Regions from separate parts of the Homo sapiens genome. Here regions 1, 3 and 4 are each linked to region 2. Evidence: fine-mapped expression QTL. A gene starts in region 2. Each other region holds a variant in brackets. All regions are shown on one strand. Distances are from middle to middle.

Region 1 (4,166 bases), 880 kb after region 2:
AAATCCATATCCACAAAAATATTTTAAGAAGAAAATATAAATACAACCTTTTCAGATAGAGATAGCAGATCTCATGAAAGGAAATTCTAAAGGATGTTCTTTAGTTTAAAAAAATGACCACACATGGAAAGTATGTGATGAAGAAGCAACAAAAAAAGGGATAAAAGTGGATTAAACTGGCAGAATTAAATAAAGATGTTTTATAAGATTAAAAACATAATTAAATATCAAAATTCTGAAAATAGAATCAATTGGGAGCGTTAAATAGAATTAAAGTGGTCTATGTTCCATATATTATTCAGAGATTGGTAAATTTATGGATTAACTCTAGTTGCTAGACTGGATGAAAAATTAGATGCTATTTACAACAGATAAATGTAAAAACAAGATACGGAGAAGATTGAAAGTGGAAATATGGGAAAAAAACTTAACATGCAAATACCAACAAAAGGAAGTTATCTTACTTCTTAGTATTGAACAAAATAGTATTTAAGGCAAAAATTATCTTAGAGGAAAATGGGTTACTTTATAATGATAACTTGTTGGAGTCACCCAGAAAATAGAACTACCTATAATTGTCACGCATGCAATAATATTGTCTTAGTATTATATGAAAGTAAAATAAAGCAATAGAATATAAACTGGAGGCAGGTGAAATGGAGTTGTATTCCATGCATTGTCTGAGGAGAAATACACATTTTTGGTTAATATTAGATATTGATAGGTTAAGAATGTATGTCTTCATTTCTAGAGTGATGATGAATAGAAAAGGAGAATACATTAAAAACTAGTGGGGAGGAAAATGGAATTAAAGAACATCTGGTTTATACAGAAAGATTAAAAGAAAGGAGAAAAAAGAGAAATATAGAAAACTCAGGAAAATGTAAATCACGTTAAACAATGGCCAATTTAAAGCCAAACATAACAGCAATTAAGTTAAGATTAAATGGGCCTGAGAAGTTCTGTTCTTGGGGAGAAATCAGTAAATCACAGAAAAGCAATGCCTTTGATACAAAACCTAGAAAAGCTTGATTTTTATTAAAATAATATTTCCAAGGCATTAGAGAACCAGAGAAATTACTGGTACTAGAAGAGTTGATATTCTAAAGAGAGAACAGAACAGGCTTTCTGTTTCTGGAGTAGGTCAATAATTGCCAGCCATTTCCCCCATGGGTGCCTTTGTCAGTTTGGGACAGACGGGAAATCAGGCTTGGCCCAGAAAGAAAGGCTTTCTGGGAGGTAATTGAATCAGCAGAAGTAGCAGAGATTCTAGGAATTACAAATTGGAATTTCAGGTGCCCCAAATTTTAGTCCCCCCAATGGAGCATTGGAAAAGTAGAGCTTTGTGAGAGGTTGGAAAGCTCAGCTGAAACTTCCGAAAGGCAGTAAGAGATTTCTTGTACTCTTGTAGTGCTTAGGAAACAGATATGATAGTGATATGGAGCCTACCTCAAGCACACAGATAGTCTCCCCCTTGAGACATTACAGAAGTGCCTGAATCAGGAGGCTGAAGAGCAATGTTTGAAAACCATAAAGAACAGAGCTAGAATTCCCTCATTGTTTTTTTGGGCTGAAGATACTGAGACCAAACAGACCCTGAAGAAAAAGCCTGGAGGGCTATTCCTGAGAAACAGGACCAAACTAGATGTGGTTGGAATCATTACTAATACTGAAACCCAGCCCTGAA[C/T]CAGCTTAATGCCTTGTTATATTGAATTAGTCATGTCCTTATCTCTTTGCTATCTGGAGAAAGGGAGGACCTTTTATGTTTGAAGATAACATCACTTGGAGTCTCCAAAACCCATTTACCCAATGTTTGGCATACAATCAAAATAACATACCATAAAATGAAACTTATAAGCAATGGGGAAAAAAACCCGATAAAATTAGTGTAGTAGTCATTACATGTGAGATGGGTCTCTTGAACACAACAGATGGATGGGTCTTATTTTATGATCCAACTTGCCACTCTGTGCCTTTAAGTGGGGTGTTAAGACCATTTACATTCAAGGTTAATATTGATATGTGAGATTTTGATCCTGTCATGAAATTGTAAGCTGGTTGCTTTATAGTTCCTATTGTGTAATAGCTTTAAAGGGTCTATGTGCTATGTACTTAGGTGTGGTTTTGTGGTGGCAGATATTGTTCTTCCATCTTTATGTTTAGAACTCCAACTCCCTTAAGGATCTCTTGTAAGGCTGGTCTAGTGGCAATAAATTGCCTTAGTGATTGCTTGTCTGAAAAAGATCTTATTTCTCCTTCACTTATAAAGCTTAGTTTGGCAGGGTATGAAATTCTTGCTTGGAGTTTCTTTTCTTTGAGAATTCTTTAAATAGGCCCCCAGTCTCTTTGGGATTGTAGGGTTTCTGCTGATAAGTCTGCTGTTAGCCAGATGGGCTCACCTTTGTAACTCATCTGACACTTTTCTCTAGGCTGCCTTCAAGATTTTTTCTTTAGAATTGACCTTAGACTGTCTGATGACCCTATGTCTTGATGATGTTCACTTTGTATAGCATCTTGCAGGTGTTCTGTGAATTTATTGTATCTGGATGTCTACCTCTCTAGCAAGATAAAGGAAATTTTCTTGAATTATTCCCTCAAATATGCTTTCTAGGTTGTTTACTTTTTCCTCTTTCTCTCTTGAGAATGCCAGTAATTCATAGGTTTGGTCACTTTACATAATCCCATATTTCTTGAAGATTTGGTTCATTTTTCAAAATAACTTTTTCTTTATTTTGTCTGACTGGGTTAGTTTGAAAGACTGATCTTCAAGCTCTGAAATTCTTTCTTCTGCTACATCTAGTCTATTGATAAAACTTTTCATTGAATTTCGGAATGTCTTAAGTGAGTTTTTCACTTTCAGTAGCTCTGATAGATTTATTTTTAAGAGTTTACCTCTTCCTTTATTCTCTGGATTGCTTTACAGGTTTCTTTGTGTTGATTTTCAACCTTATCTTGAATCTCAAAGAATTTTCCTGCAATCTATGCTTTGAATTCTCCATCTGTCATCTCTCAGCTTCTATTTTGGCTAGGACCACTCCTGGAGAGCTAGAGTGAACCTTGTTGGTGTCACACATTCAGATTTTTCATGACAGCAGAATTCTTATACTAGTTCCTTCTTATCTGGAGGGGATTGTGTTGGGTAGGGCTTTTGGCTTTGTTTCTATAGTCCTACACACTTCTACCAGCAGGTTTTTTGATGGGCTGTCCAGTTTGACCTATAGACTGGTAGATGACATTTGCAAGTAACAGCCAGCTGTCCCATAAACAGATGGGTATAGATCTGATCTTTTTTTACTATTAGGGGCTCTCAGTTGTTTCAGGTGAAGGGCTGGACAGTGGGGGTGCCTGATGTACTGAGCTTCTTGTTCTGTGGGGATGGTGGGACAGAGCTGAGAAGAGCTGGTGCCCCTGGCTTGCCCATTAGTATACCAATGGCAAGCACAGGCACCAGCTCTGATGAGCGTGGCTGGGAGCAACTCCTGCACTGAGGTCTCTGTAGGGGCTTGTGGGCGAGAAGACTGCACCAGCTCCCCATCCTAGGTAGGTAGAAATGTGATCTGTTTCCTTATCACACCCTGTTTCAGGGCTCATGACTCCTAGTTCAGATGCACACTATAGTCTATCTCTGGACTGCAATGTGGTTGAGGGCCACAGGGAACACTTGTTTTATGATTCTCCATGAGAGTTGTTCAGGGTATAACCTCATCACTCAACCTGATACAGATAGCTTTAAGGCTCACTTATTCTATGATGGGGCATTACTGCTGCTTTTTGAGAAGGAAGGTCTCCACCTTTGGGTCCGTGCAGGTCGGTGTTGGTCATGGTGGTGTTTGCTGGTTGGGTAGGCCCAACCTCAGGCCCTGAGGAAATTGGTCAGGTGCCAACAGCACTGGAAGGGTATTGATAGTTTCTCAGCTGACAGGCCTCCAGAAGGCCTGCTGGACAGTGTGCATGGCCCTGAAGGGGCTGGACTGGGGTTATCTATCCCAGATTTCAGGTGCTGACTGTAATGGGGTGGGGGTGGGGTTCAGGCTGGTCCCTGGGTCACCAGCCAAACTCTCAGGCAGGGGAAGGTGGGATTCTTGGGTGGTGGGAACCCAGAAGAATATCACAGGCCTGTGGTGGGTGGGTTTTCGGAAAGGCTCTGGGTCGCAGGTGAAATGTTC
Region 2 (4,146 bases):
CACCCCCCAGTCCTGAAGGCTCAGTGGCCTCATCTGTGAAATGGAGCACTTTGGGTGGGCTGTCTCTGACATTCCACCAAGTTCTCCGTGTTGTCTGCCAGCGTTCTTGGGGCCCCACAGAAAGAATGGCCAGGCCAGGGCTGTACCTTCAGCTGCCACACTCTCTGTGTGTTTCCCCTGCCCCTGCCATGCCTTCAAGTGTCCCTCATTGCACTGGGAGAAGGAGCTGGAGGAGATACCAGCATTTACCTTCCATTTCTTTTGGAGCAAGCTCCACATGTAGGAAAAAAGAGGACAGGCTGGGTGGGGTGGCTCACGTCTGTAGTCCCAGCACTTTGGGAGGCTGAGGCAGGTGGATCACTTGAGGTCAGGAGTTCAAGACCAGCCTGGCCAACATGGTGAAACCCCGTCTCTACTAAAAACTACAAAAATTAGCTGGGTGTGGTGGCAGGTGCCTGTAATCCCAGCTACTTGGGAGGCTGAGGCAGGAGAATCACTTGAACCCAGGAGGCAGAGGTTGCAGTGAGCCGAGATGGCGCCATTGCACTCCAGCCTGGGTGACAGAGTGAAAACCCATCTCAAAAAAAAGAAAAAAAAAAGAAAAGAAAAAGGAAGGACAATTGTTCAGCAAGAGAGTGTCAACTGTAAGTTTCTCTAGGCCTCCCTCCAAGGCCTCTTCCATTCTGATGAGTCTGTGCCTGAGAAGTGGCTAAGAGGGGCAGGCACTGGACCAGAATGGCCACTGACCTGCTGTGTGGCCTTGGGCAAGTCACTTGGCCTCTCTGAGCTTCCCTTTGCTCCCCAGAAAAGTGGAATTACTCAGAATACAAACCCAAACCATTGGGTTGTTTTGAAGACTCTAGTATATGTCAAGTTCTTAGCAATGCCCACCATATATGCCTCACAAATGATAGCTAGCATGATTGTTGTTGTTTTTGGTGGTTATAGTGACAGGAGAGGTGAGCATGCTGTCGGGTTGAAGGAGGAATTTTGCTCTGAAAGGGTTAAACTTGAACCAGCTGCTCCCAGTCCTGGTGATAAGGTTGGAGGAAACACAGTCCAGGTCCCCAGCCCTGTCACAAGTGGATTTATGAGGTGCTGGTCACTTTGAGTCGGAGTAGATGATCCCCGCAGACTGCACAGGAAACATTCAGGGTTAGTGGCCAGAAGGGGCTCAGGCCTCTGTTAAAAGAATGAGACAGAGTAGAGAGAAAAAGAGAAAGCCAGGCAGCAGGAGCCCCGCAAACACCCCACCCTGCAGGAGGGGAGAAGGGGAGAGATGGGGTTGAAGGGAGAGACAGAGAAAAGGGAGAACCAGAGGCCCAGCCAGGAGGACACAGACAGTGAGCCTGAGAGAGAGACGGCCGGCAAGAGTAAAGGATGCAGGAACAGCCAGGCAGGGTCGGGGGCAGAGCAGGGGAGCGCGGGCCGCGGAAAGACCGAGAAAGCAGGAGACAAGGAGTTGTCCTTAAGGGCCAGAAGGAGGAACAGACAGAGAAAGGGGACTGGGGGGAGGGAAAGAAAATCACAGGCGCTGAGAGGGCGCGGGGGACCGTACGGGTCTCCGGGTGTCCGCGCATCTGTACCTGCGCGCGCGTGCGTACCTGTGGCTGGCGGTGGGCACGTGCACGTGCTCGGGGGCAGTGCTGGGGGCGGGAAAGACGCAAGACCGCCGGCTGCGGGACAGATCGAACTCGAGGGCCCCGACCCGGGTGACCCCCGCCCCCTCCCCGCGCGCGCTCCCGGGCCCCGAGCTGGTTAACGCGCCGCCCCCGCCGCGCCGGCTCCTCCCCGCCAGGGCAGTGCCCCGGCTCCGCCAACGCCCTCACTAGACCTGGCGGCCGGACCGACCCGCGCCTGGCGGATGCGCCCGGCGCGCCCACAGCAGCCCCCGCGCCCGCCGTGCCGCCGCCGGGACGTGGGGCCCTTGGGCCGTCGGGCCGCCTGGGGAGCGCCAGCCCGGATCCGGCTGCCCAGATGCGGGCGCCACTCTGCCTGCTCCTGCTCGTCGCCCACGCCGTGGACATGCTCGCCCTGAACCGAAGGAAGAAGCAAGGTACAAGGGGTGGCTGGGCAGGGCGGCCGGGCAGGCGCTGCGGGGCAGACCGGGGGCCGGAGGACCGGGGGCGGCGGCTCTGGGGGCATCTGCCTGGTGCCTGGCGCCCTGGGTCCTTCGCTCCTCCAGACGAGTCTCAACCTCACTTAAGATGGGGAGATTGAGGCTCCAGGGCACCCAGTGAGCGAGCCATTGAGTAGGGTGGGCCAAGGAGACTCACCCAGAAGGGAGAGGGTAGCAGGGCTCTCTGTAGTAGCCGCATGGTCAGCAGAAAGGAGGATGGCTTCGTGCAGAGACAGAAGACTCAAGAGCCAGCCTGCGGGGCACAGGGACTAGGAGACAGACTCAGTGGCGTAGAAGCCATTCCAAGCATCCATGCTCGGCCAGGAAGTGACATAGAGAGCCTTGGGCTGGGCGTCCAGAGGCCCCAGTCCCAGCCTCATCACTCACCCTGACTCCTGGTGTCACCTCCCAGAGGGCAGTGATCCTCCATGGCCCCCCTATGTTGAGTTCAGCCAGACCTGAGACCTGAGTTCAGGTTCACTTATTCTAATAGGGGATGACCTAGAAGAAGTCCAGCCCCTCAGAGAGCCTCAGCTTTTCCATCTTCACCTCTCAGGCCACTAGGAAGATGAGCCAAGGTTCAGATTATAAATGTACCAGGGGCCGCATGCGCTCTCACCTGGGAGTCCTATGCCACAGCCTCGCTGTGAGAGTCAGAACATCCTCAGAAGGTGGGTTGGAGGCTGTCCCTGCAGAGCAGGAGTTGGTAGAGCCTGTGCCTCAGAGAAGGGTAAGCGGGTGAGCAAGTGAGCAAATCGCCTGCCTGAGCTGGGCAGCCCTTTGGCCTCCAGGTGCCACTCTTAAGATCAGCAGCCGAATGCCAGCCACTATGCCACGGGTTTTTCATGTCCTAGCTCATCAAATCCCAACTATATGCTCATGACATAGGGGTCGTCCAGTTTTAATAAAGCCTGGGATTCCAAGGCTCAGACTGGTTTAAATAACTGCTGAATTGTCCAGCTGGTGTCTTCTCTCTTTCCAGCCCTGGCATCGGGTCTGAGCAAGGATAAAGGGGAAGGAAAATGAGAGAGGATGGGTTGCCCTCTGGGGCCTTCCATTTGTGTGAAAGCCCTACAGCGACACAGTCACTCCTGGAACGGAGCAGGAAGCAGACAGAGGCTGTGGGAGAATTGGGAGGTGGGATTGGATGGGGTTGGGGAGACTGTGGCCCAAGAGGCTCCAGTTCTTGCTGTGACAGTGGGACAAGGGACTAGAGAGGCGTGTGGTTTTCAGCTGAGCTGGGGTGAGTTTGGGACTCTATGGGGACACTCCTTTGTGAATGGCCTTTGTTTAGTAGTTAGGGGCATGGGCTCTGGAGCCAGGTCAACTGAGTTCAAATCCCAGCTTCCCCAGTTACCAACTGAGTGACTTTGGATAAGTCACTTTGCCTGTCCAATCCTCACTTTACCCATCTGAGGGTCCTTTAGAAGATCTCTGAGATCTTTCTCCATTCTAAACAATACCAAAAAATCAAACAAACCCCCTTTCCCTTCATCAACCCATCTTTTACTTAAGTATCCTGCTCATAAGGAGGATTGTGGGCAAGATGAGTAGCTAAGGACACAGGCTCCTAATGGGTGCTCGTAAGTATTAATCATTCTCATTTCCTGTCCACTGTGTCTTTGGCTACTCACAGTGGCTTAGTGGAGGGAGGGGAGAGATGCTTGTTTTCTGGATGAGGGAACTGAGGTTCAGAGAAGGAAACTGACTTGTCCAAGGTCGCACAGCAGGTGAGTAGCAAAGCAGGCTCGAATCCCAATCTGCCTGACATAATGCTGAGAAGATATCTTCTGAGGTGTGCTGGTCTTCCCTTCTCAGAGCCTCAGTTTCCTCATCTAAAGAGGAGCTGGTTTAGGCCAGGTGTGGTGGCTCACGCCTGTAATACCAGCACTTTGGGAGGCCAAGGCAGGCGGATCATTTGAGATCAGGAGTTTGAGACCAGCCTGGCTAACATGATGAAACCCTGTCTTTACTAAAAATACAATGATTAGCTGGGTGTGGTGGCGGGCGCCTGTAATTCCAGCTAC
Region 3 (4,166 bases), 110 kb before region 2:
TGGTGTGAAGGAGAGGTCCAGCTTCATTCTTTTTATATGAATATCCAGTTTCCCCAGCATCATTGGTTGAAAAGGCTGTTCTTTCCCTATTGAATGGTCTTGGTGTCTTTGTTGAAAATCATTTGGCCATACATGTGAAGGTTCATTTCTGGGCTCTCTATTCTGTTCCATTGGTCTATATGTCTGTCTTTATGCCAGTACCATAATGTTTTGATTATGTAGCTTTGTAGTAAGTTTTGAAATCAGGAAGTATGAGGATGTCAATGAAGCAGATCACTTTTTAACACCTCCCTCCTCATCTATGAAATTATTTTCAGCAATAACCACATGATAATCAGTAAAAATTATTATTTCCCTGATTCATTCTTCAATGAAAAAATATATATGATTTTTTTTTGAGACAGAGTGTTGCTCTATCACCCAGGCTGGAGTACAGTAGCACGATCTCGGCTCACTGCAACCTCCGCCTCCTGGGTTCAAGAGATTCTCCTGCCTCAGCCTCCCAAGTAACTGGGATTACAGGCACGCACCACCAGGCCCAGCTAATTTTTGTATTTTTAGTAGAGATGGGGTTTCACCATGTTGGCCAGGCTGGTCTCGAACTCCTGGCCTCAAGTGATTCACCTGCCTTGGCCTCCCAAAGTGTTGGGATTACAGGCGTAAGCCACCATGCCTGGCCAAAAACATAATTTATAGATTGTACAACTCCCCCTTTTTAGTGTATAACTCTGAGTTTTGACAAATGCACACAGTCTTATAACCACCGTATTCTCTAGGTATTTCCAGAAAGAAAGGATTTTTAAAAATTCATCTCTATTGAGATAATTTACATACAATAAAATCACCCGTTTTAGTTGTATACTTCATGAGTTTTGCCTAATGTATAGACCAGCGTAACCACCATGACCAAGATATAGCATGTTTACATGACTCCAAAAAATTTCCTCATGTGCCTTGGCAGTTAATCTCTCCAGCCTCTAGCTGAGGTGTGTTAGTCCATTTTGCATTGCTATAAAGGAATACCTGGGACTGGGTAATTTCTAAAGAAAGGCACTGCAGGCTGTCTAGCATGACACCAGTATCTGCTTGGCTTCTGGTGAGGCCTAGGAAGCTTTCAATCATGGTGGAAGGCAAAGGGGAAGCATGCATGTCATATGGAGAAAGAGAAGGGGAGGGAGCAAGGAAGAGGTGCCAGGATCCTTTAAATAACCAGCTCTCACATGAACTAATAGAGTGAGAACTCACTCATTACCATGGGGAGGACACCAAGCCATTCATGAGGAATCTACCCCCATGACCCAAACACCTCCCCCTATGCCCGCTTCTAGCATTGGAGGTCACATTTCAGCAGGAGATTTGGAGGGGACAAAACATCCAAATCATATCACCAGGCAACCACTGATCTGTGTTTTTTGCATCTATATTTTTGGTATCTAATTTTGCCTCTCTTAAAAGTTCATATAAATGAAATGTATACAATGCCCCAGGAAGCAGATGTCAAGATGGAGTTAGCAGTGTTAGAGGTTTATTGGGGATAAGTCACAAAAGGAAAAGGGGAGTGGGAACAGGAGTATGTGGGGAGAACCTTCAGGCCTTTCTGCTGATCTGGCTCCTACAAAAGAAGAGAAGGAAGGAATAAGGATTAGTGAGAAAGTCTCAGCCAGCCCAACGGAGAACTCCAGCACCAAGAAATATCATAGAGAGTTCCCT[G/A]TTGGATTGAAATGGCCAGGCCTTAGTGCTGTCTCTGCTCGGTGGGCTGCCCGTAAAGAGCATGGCTTCAGCATGATCCCAGTGGTCCTATGGCCGGAGGACGTTAGCAAACTGCACTCCTCACAGCTGTGTGGCAATTATTTTCTTGAAGGTTTGGCACCCCTCCATAGTTGACACATAAAATAATACCCCTTCATGCCTTTTTTCACTCATCATCATGTCCAAACTTCATCCATGTTGTGTGTATCAGTACCTTCCTTTTTATTGAGTAATATTGTGTTGTATGGATGTGCCAGTTTGTCCAGTCCCTTATTGATGGGCATTTGGGTTGTTTCCAGCTTGGGATGGTGATGAGTAATGCTGCTGTAGACATACATGGACAGGTCTTGGTATGGCCTTATGATTTCACTGGTCTTGGATAAATTCCTAGGTGTAGAATTGCTGGATCTTATGGTAGAGTATATGTTTATAGGAAACTGCCAAATGTGTTCCCAAAATGGTCATACCATTTTCCACACCTGCCAACAATGAATGAGAGCCCTGGTTGCTTGACATCCAGCAGAAGGGGATTTAATGGGAAAAATATGATGCTTACTGAACCAGTGGATGGATTGGAATGTAAAGATTGGGGAAAGCTGCCACCAGCTTTCAGAAAGTCTGGACATTGCAGGAGCTTCAGAAAACCACCAGCAGTGATCACAGCTGCCTCCCATCCTGGGGCAGTCTGTGTGTATGTAGGGTGGTGGGGGGACCTGCAGAGGCTGCTGCCAAACTGAAACCTAAAACTCAAGATTCTGCCACTGCTGTTGGAGAAGCAATAATGTGCCCCTGCCTCTGCCTCCCAGTGGCTGGATCTAACTTGGAACCCAGCTGGCAAGTCATTCTGAAAAATGCACTTGTTAGGTTTCAGGCCTCTGAAATACTAAGGGAAGGCATAAAAGGTGTGAGTGTGAGTGTGTGTGTGTGGTGGGGGTCGGGGGGTAGTACTGGGGCTTTGACAAATTGCTCAATGTATATTGTCTCATTTAATTCCCAGAACAACACTTTAAGGTAGAAACTATTATTATCTTCGCTTTAAAAATGAGAAAAATAAGGGAGAAGTTGTGCCATTGTCCTAAGCAGCAGGGTCAGGATTTGAGCCAGGCGGTCAGCCTGCTTGCCTCCTCATCACAGTGCCATGCCTCCAACAGCATCACTAAGGGCTTGCGGGATTCTGAGCTCTGAGTTTCAAGATCTACACAGGAAAAGCCAAGAGTCATGACGAGGACCATTTTTCAGACCTCAGGGGCAGAAAAGGCTGGGAATAGAAAAAAGGGTCAAGGGTCCAGGCTGGGAACAGAGAAACGATCTAGGCATGGGAAGCTCCTCCAACCACAGGGACACATGAAGAGTCTCTGCAGAGACAAGGGAGGCCACAAGAGGGCACCCTGGCCCACCCAAATGTCCACAGATGGCAGCCACGCAGGGAGAGGCACACTCTCCTCCATCCTGACTTCATTCCACCAGGAGGTTCAGGGGAGCCCTAGACCAGAGCCCCCCCAGCAGGCTCTGTCCACACTGCAATCAGCCTTCACACCTGGAAATACCTGATTTTAGCTCTGGGGATCGTTGCCTTCAGGGAGAGACGGTCCCCAGAGAACCCAAGTCCTTGGAGGCACAGAGGGTCGGTTTCTGAGGCCACTCTCTTTCCTGTACCCCCTACTTCTCTTTGTCTCCATCCTTTCACAGACTTGGGCCTGATCCTTGCCTTGCCCCCATGCCACCCATGTCCAGCTCCAACTCCAAAGTTCCATCAGGCACTTGCCCACCTTGGTCAGGCAGGTGGGAGGGGTGACCAGTATTACCTTGAAAGGCTAGAAGCTCTGCCTGATGCTCCCCAAACCAGAACATCAGCTTCATGAGCACAGGGATTTGTGTCTGTTTGGTTCACTGCTATAGTCCTGGCACCTAGAACAGAGCCTGGCATACATAGTAGGTGCCCAATAAATATGTGATGAGTGAATAAATACATTAGCAGGTGCATAGTGTAGAAAAGTGTCTAGGCCTTGGAGTCAGGGAACCTGGGTTTACATCTCGGCCTCTTTGCTTACTCACTGTGCAACTTTGGGGAAATGGCTTATCAAATTGTCAAATAGGGGTTATAGTGGTGTCTCCCCAAGGGCTGTTGGGAGAATTTCTGAACATGATGTCAATAAAATGCCTCCCACAGTACCTGGCTCATGATAAGGGCCCCTAAGAGGTGGCTCATTATTTGAGATAATGAGGCCTTGGAAAACAGCACCTATTTATTGAGGATTTACTATGTGTCTGGCACTTGGCTCATGTTATCTAATTCAATTTTCATAACAACTTTTAAATGAGAAGTTAAGTAGCTCAGAGAACTTAAGCAACTTTTCCAGGGTCACACAGCTGAGAAGAACAAACTTGGGTTTAAGTCCAAGTCTTGAACCCTGCAG
Region 4 (4,166 bases), 32 kb before region 2:
TGGTAGGCAGCTCTTAGGCCACTGCCTGGGCCAGCAGGACTTTCTCATGCACACTGGGCCTCTGTCTGTCCTCAGAGCTCTGCCTTCTCATAGAAAACATGGATCCACGCAATCACTGGCTCATTCATTTGTTCACTCAACAACTCTTTATTGAGCATCTACTGATGTACCAGGTGCTCACAGGCACCGAGTGTATGGAGGTGAAAAAGCAAAGCTCCCCCTGGTCATGGAGCCCATGATCTAGTGGGGTCGACAAACCTAAAGATAAATAAGTCAATCAAATCCATTGGCAGGCAGTCAGACATAAAACAAGTTAGTAGAGAGAAAGTGACAGGTGGGTGGGGATCCTCCAAGGAGGTGGCATCTGAGCAGGGACCTGCAGGTGGAAAGGGGTGAGCTGAAAACAGTGGCACTTAGCAGGGACAGGTCAACCTCATGCCTCCACCCCACTTTTCCTCCTCTAAGCTTTTTGGTCAAGGCTGCTCTCCACTCTCTGCCAAGCCAGCAATGACTTATCTGTATTCTCCTTAATACATAATTTGCTATTTTATTAACTGTATCAAATGCATTTGTAAAACTAGAACATGAAGCCACCTTGGCGTATAATGTAGGCTCTTACTCCAGTAAGAGTCACAAAACCCACATTGCTGACACACTTCTGTCCAATATAAGAGGGTGCTTTTTCCATTTAAAACTCTAATGAAATGGTGGCTTTAAGATAGTAGACTAAAGACATTTCTATTCCTTTTCTCTTCTTAAAAAAGAAAAAAACAAACAAAAAACTTCCCCAAAACAAGAATAAGGAGCAGAAACAAAAACTCTGTCTTTGAGGAAATCGAGAGACATTTGTAACCCTGAACTACAAAGGAGGGAAATGGATGAAGTGGCCAGTGACATAACCGAGAGGAAGAAAGTCAAAGCTAAATGGATGGGGTAGGTGACTGCTGTGTGGGTGGATTGCTGCATAGAGAAACAAGCCAATTTGCCTAAAGGCCTCAAAAATTGAAGCTACTAGGTCTTGGAGGAGCTGCTGGTGAAGTGGGGATTGAAAGCAATCTGTACAAGGAGCATGGGACCTCCACGTCCCCAACCCCCATCCTGCCCAGCCAGGTAGTAACCCCACTCACTTCTGGGCAAGCAAAGGGAGGTTTATTCTCTGAAAAAAAGGCAACAAAGAAACTCCAAAACTAGAAACATCAGGCCCAGAGAAGGTGAGATCTTCAGCCCCCTTCACCCGTCTCATTCTAGAATGTCCAACCCCAGGCAGAAAATTATCTGGAGAACCACTTCCAGGACAAAGACCTAAAGATACGGTAATTGGGGGTGGGAGGAGAGTGCATCACAGAAAAAGCCAACCAGCCCCTTTGCACCAGCCCTATGCAACCACCCTGCATGGACCCTACACAAAAGCCTACCAGTCCACCCTCCCCACCCAGTTTCCAGCCAGAGTGGTAATGTGAGTAGACAGCCAAGGATCATTAGAAATTTCTATCATGAAGTGCAGAGATCAAAGCAAACCATGAGGGCGGGGTAAAAGGTCTTCAAGAAAAGAATCCAGGGAACAAGAGAAAACTTAAAATAAATCCTACAATTAATATCCCTTGAGTGATAAAGATATTGCAGCAGTAAAATGTGAACAAGAAGCTCTCTGGAAGGAACAGAGAGTAAGAAACCAGAGATTAAAAATCTGTGCAGTAGATTGCACAAATGACCCCAAGTTTTTTCTGTCCCAGAATGCCTGCCACTTCCCAATGAAACTGCAGAACTTCCCATCATGGCATAGAATCTGGTTATCTATTGTTGCATGACAAACCATCACCAAAATTAGTGGATTAATTTTGTGGGTTAAAAACTGAGGGAGGGTGCAACTGGGTGATGATTCTGTTCCACGTGGTGTTGATGGAGCTCACTTAGTGGTCTTCAGCTGGTGGATGAGCTGGTCTGGAGGGCCCAAGATGACATCACTCACCAGTCTGGCTCCTTTGGCCCAGATGGCTGGAAGGCTGTCTCGACTGGATTGTTGAGTGGTGTGTTGACATGTAGCTTTTCCAGCACGGTGATCTCATACCTCTTCCTCAATGGCTGGCTTACCCCGGAGTGAGTGTCCCAGGAGAACCAGGTGGAAACTGTAGGGCCTTTTCTAACTTATCTTCAGAAGTTATGCCATGTCACTTTTGCTGCATTACTAAGGTACAGGCCCAAGCAAGGGAAGGTGTCATGAACCCTATCTGCTGATGGGACAAGTGTCAAAGGA[T/C]TGGTGCACATGTTTTAAAACTTCCATGCTACCAGGGGCTGTGCTCCACCAAAAAGAGGAACTAAACCAAGAAGAGGAACCATGAGCTTTTCCTGTGTAACAAATTGCCTGAAAACGGCCACCATTTATTCCCTTATGAACCTATAGCCCAGTAGTGGCGTGGGCTGGGCTCCATGTGGTCTTGGCTGGCTTCTCTCCTGTGTCTGCCGTCAGCTGGTCGTCAATGGCCTCACTCACATATATATGCTGGTTGGCTTGGCACAGCTGGGGTAACAGAGATGATTTAGCCATCGGTCTCTTATACTTCAGCAAACCAGCCTGGGTTTGCTGCCAGCCTGGTTGTGGTCACAGGGTTCCCCAGAGCTGAAAGGGCAAAGGCTCATATGCACAAGTAATTTTCCAGCTGCTGCTTGTGTCATGTTTGCCATTATGCCATTGGCCAAAGCAAGTCACGTGACCAAGCCCAGAGTCAATGTGAGAGGGGCTTGGACAAGAGCTTAGACACAGGCAGGGGAATGAATCTCTGTGGCTTTTATTTTGTAAATTTTCTATGATGAACTGAGATATAGCAGTCTGTGGTTTCAACACAGGAGAGACAAAGGAATTCCTAATGGTATCTGTGCCCCAAGTCTAGAGCAAAACTAGTCCAGATAGGCATCAAAGTTCAGAGCTCCAGAAAAAAAAATGGCAGCAGCATTAAATTATCAGACAGGTTTGTCTGTGAGGAAATCATGTTGAGGGATGTTTTACAGAGTGGTTTTCTGAGTGAGGGAAGACTTGGGTCAAATGTTCAAAGAAAGCTAAACAAACAAAAAGCACTTTTTAAAAGGGTATTGCTAAAGATGGTTTCTTTTTCTTTTTTCTTTTATTTTTTAATCATGCAATAGTTGGCCATATTTGGGGGGTATATGTGATATTTTGATACCTGTATACAACGCTTAAGAATTAAATCTGGGTGATTGGGATATTCATTACCTTAAAGATGTATCTTCATATGTAACATGGGGCAACACATCGGGTTCTCAGTCACGCATGGTGGCTCATGCCCGTAATCCCAGAGCTTTGGGAGGCTGAGGCAGGAAGAACATTTGAGCCCAGGAGTTCAAGGCTGCAGTGAGCCATCACTGTACCACTGCATCCCAGCCTGAGTGACATAGCAAACTCTGTCTCTAAAAACAACAAAAAAAATCTGGTCCTCAGGAGTGTCATGAGGGCCAGATGGGATCATGTGATCAGGCGACCAATGGGTCTTTAAAGATTTAGGTGTCCCATTCTTGTCAGTGAACATTGCCCCCAATATATTTAATATGTACATTTACAAAGTAAAAACATAATATATTATCAATCAATATATTATCATCTTATATGATATACACAAAATGAAAATTTTTAAAAGATGAGATCAAATATACAGATAGAATTACTAATTGTTTTTCTTGCAACCCAGTGGAGTATACTCTGCAATACATGGACTCCACTGAAAAAGGCTGGTCTAGGAGATAGTAAGTATTTAATAAACGTAAGCACTTAAAAATACAATTATTATTGTTAGATAAAACTCTTGTTCTTCTCCTAGACCACAAGCTCAGTGGAAGTAGAGACCAGATAAAGTTTCCCTGAAGTATACAGAATAGGAGTTCAACAAATGTTGTTGGTGGATGTGCCCAGGGTGAGAGAAGTGTAGCGGAAAGAGCACTGGGTTTGGGATTAAACAATCTTGGGCCCAAATTCTAGATTGGTCAAAAGCTCACTGTGTAGGCTGGGCACAGTGGCTCATGCCTATAATCCCAGCACTTTGGGAGACCGAGGCAGGTGGATTGCTTGAGGTCAGGAGTTCAAGACCAGCCTGGCCAACATGGCAAAACCTCTCTCTACTAAGAAAAAAAAAATAGCTGGGCATGGTGGCGGGCAC

Evidence for each region. PIP is the estimated chance that this variant, and not a neighbour inherited with it, causes the effect.
Region 1: its variant is the best candidate, but not a certain one, in a credible set for the expression of RSPO4 in ovary (GTEx, PIP 0.66).
Region 3: its variant is the best candidate, but not a certain one, in a credible set for the expression of RSPO4 in whole blood (TOPMed, PIP 0.85).
Region 4: its variant is the best candidate, but not a certain one, in a credible set for the expression of RSPO4 in whole blood (TOPMed, PIP 0.77).

Annotation. Positions count from the first base shown.
Region 1 is chr20:115,811-119,976 of GRCh38, reverse strand. No RefSeq gene overlaps it. Among named protein-coding and RNA genes, the nearest start is that of DEFB126, 25 kb to the left of the region's middle. The variant C/T (reference allele first, on the strand shown) is at 1,688.
Region 2 is chr20:999,996-1,004,141 of GRCh38, reverse strand. RSPO4 (R-spondin 4) reads left to right here and starts at 1,831. Exons shown (of 5, transcript NM_001029871.4): 1 at 1,831-2,056. The coding sequence starts at 1,978.
Region 3 is chr20:1,107,587-1,111,752 of GRCh38, reverse strand. No RefSeq gene overlaps it. Among named protein-coding and RNA genes, the nearest start is that of PSMF1, 8.9 kb to the left of the region's middle. RefSeq lists an enhancer at 3,038-3,087. The variant G/A (reference allele first, on the strand shown) is at 1,711.
Region 4 is chr20:1,032,420-1,036,585 of GRCh38, reverse strand. No RefSeq gene overlaps it. Among named protein-coding and RNA genes, the nearest start is that of RSPO4, 32 kb to the right of the region's middle. RefSeq lists an enhancer at 2,460-2,509. The variant T/C (reference allele first, on the strand shown) is at 2,255.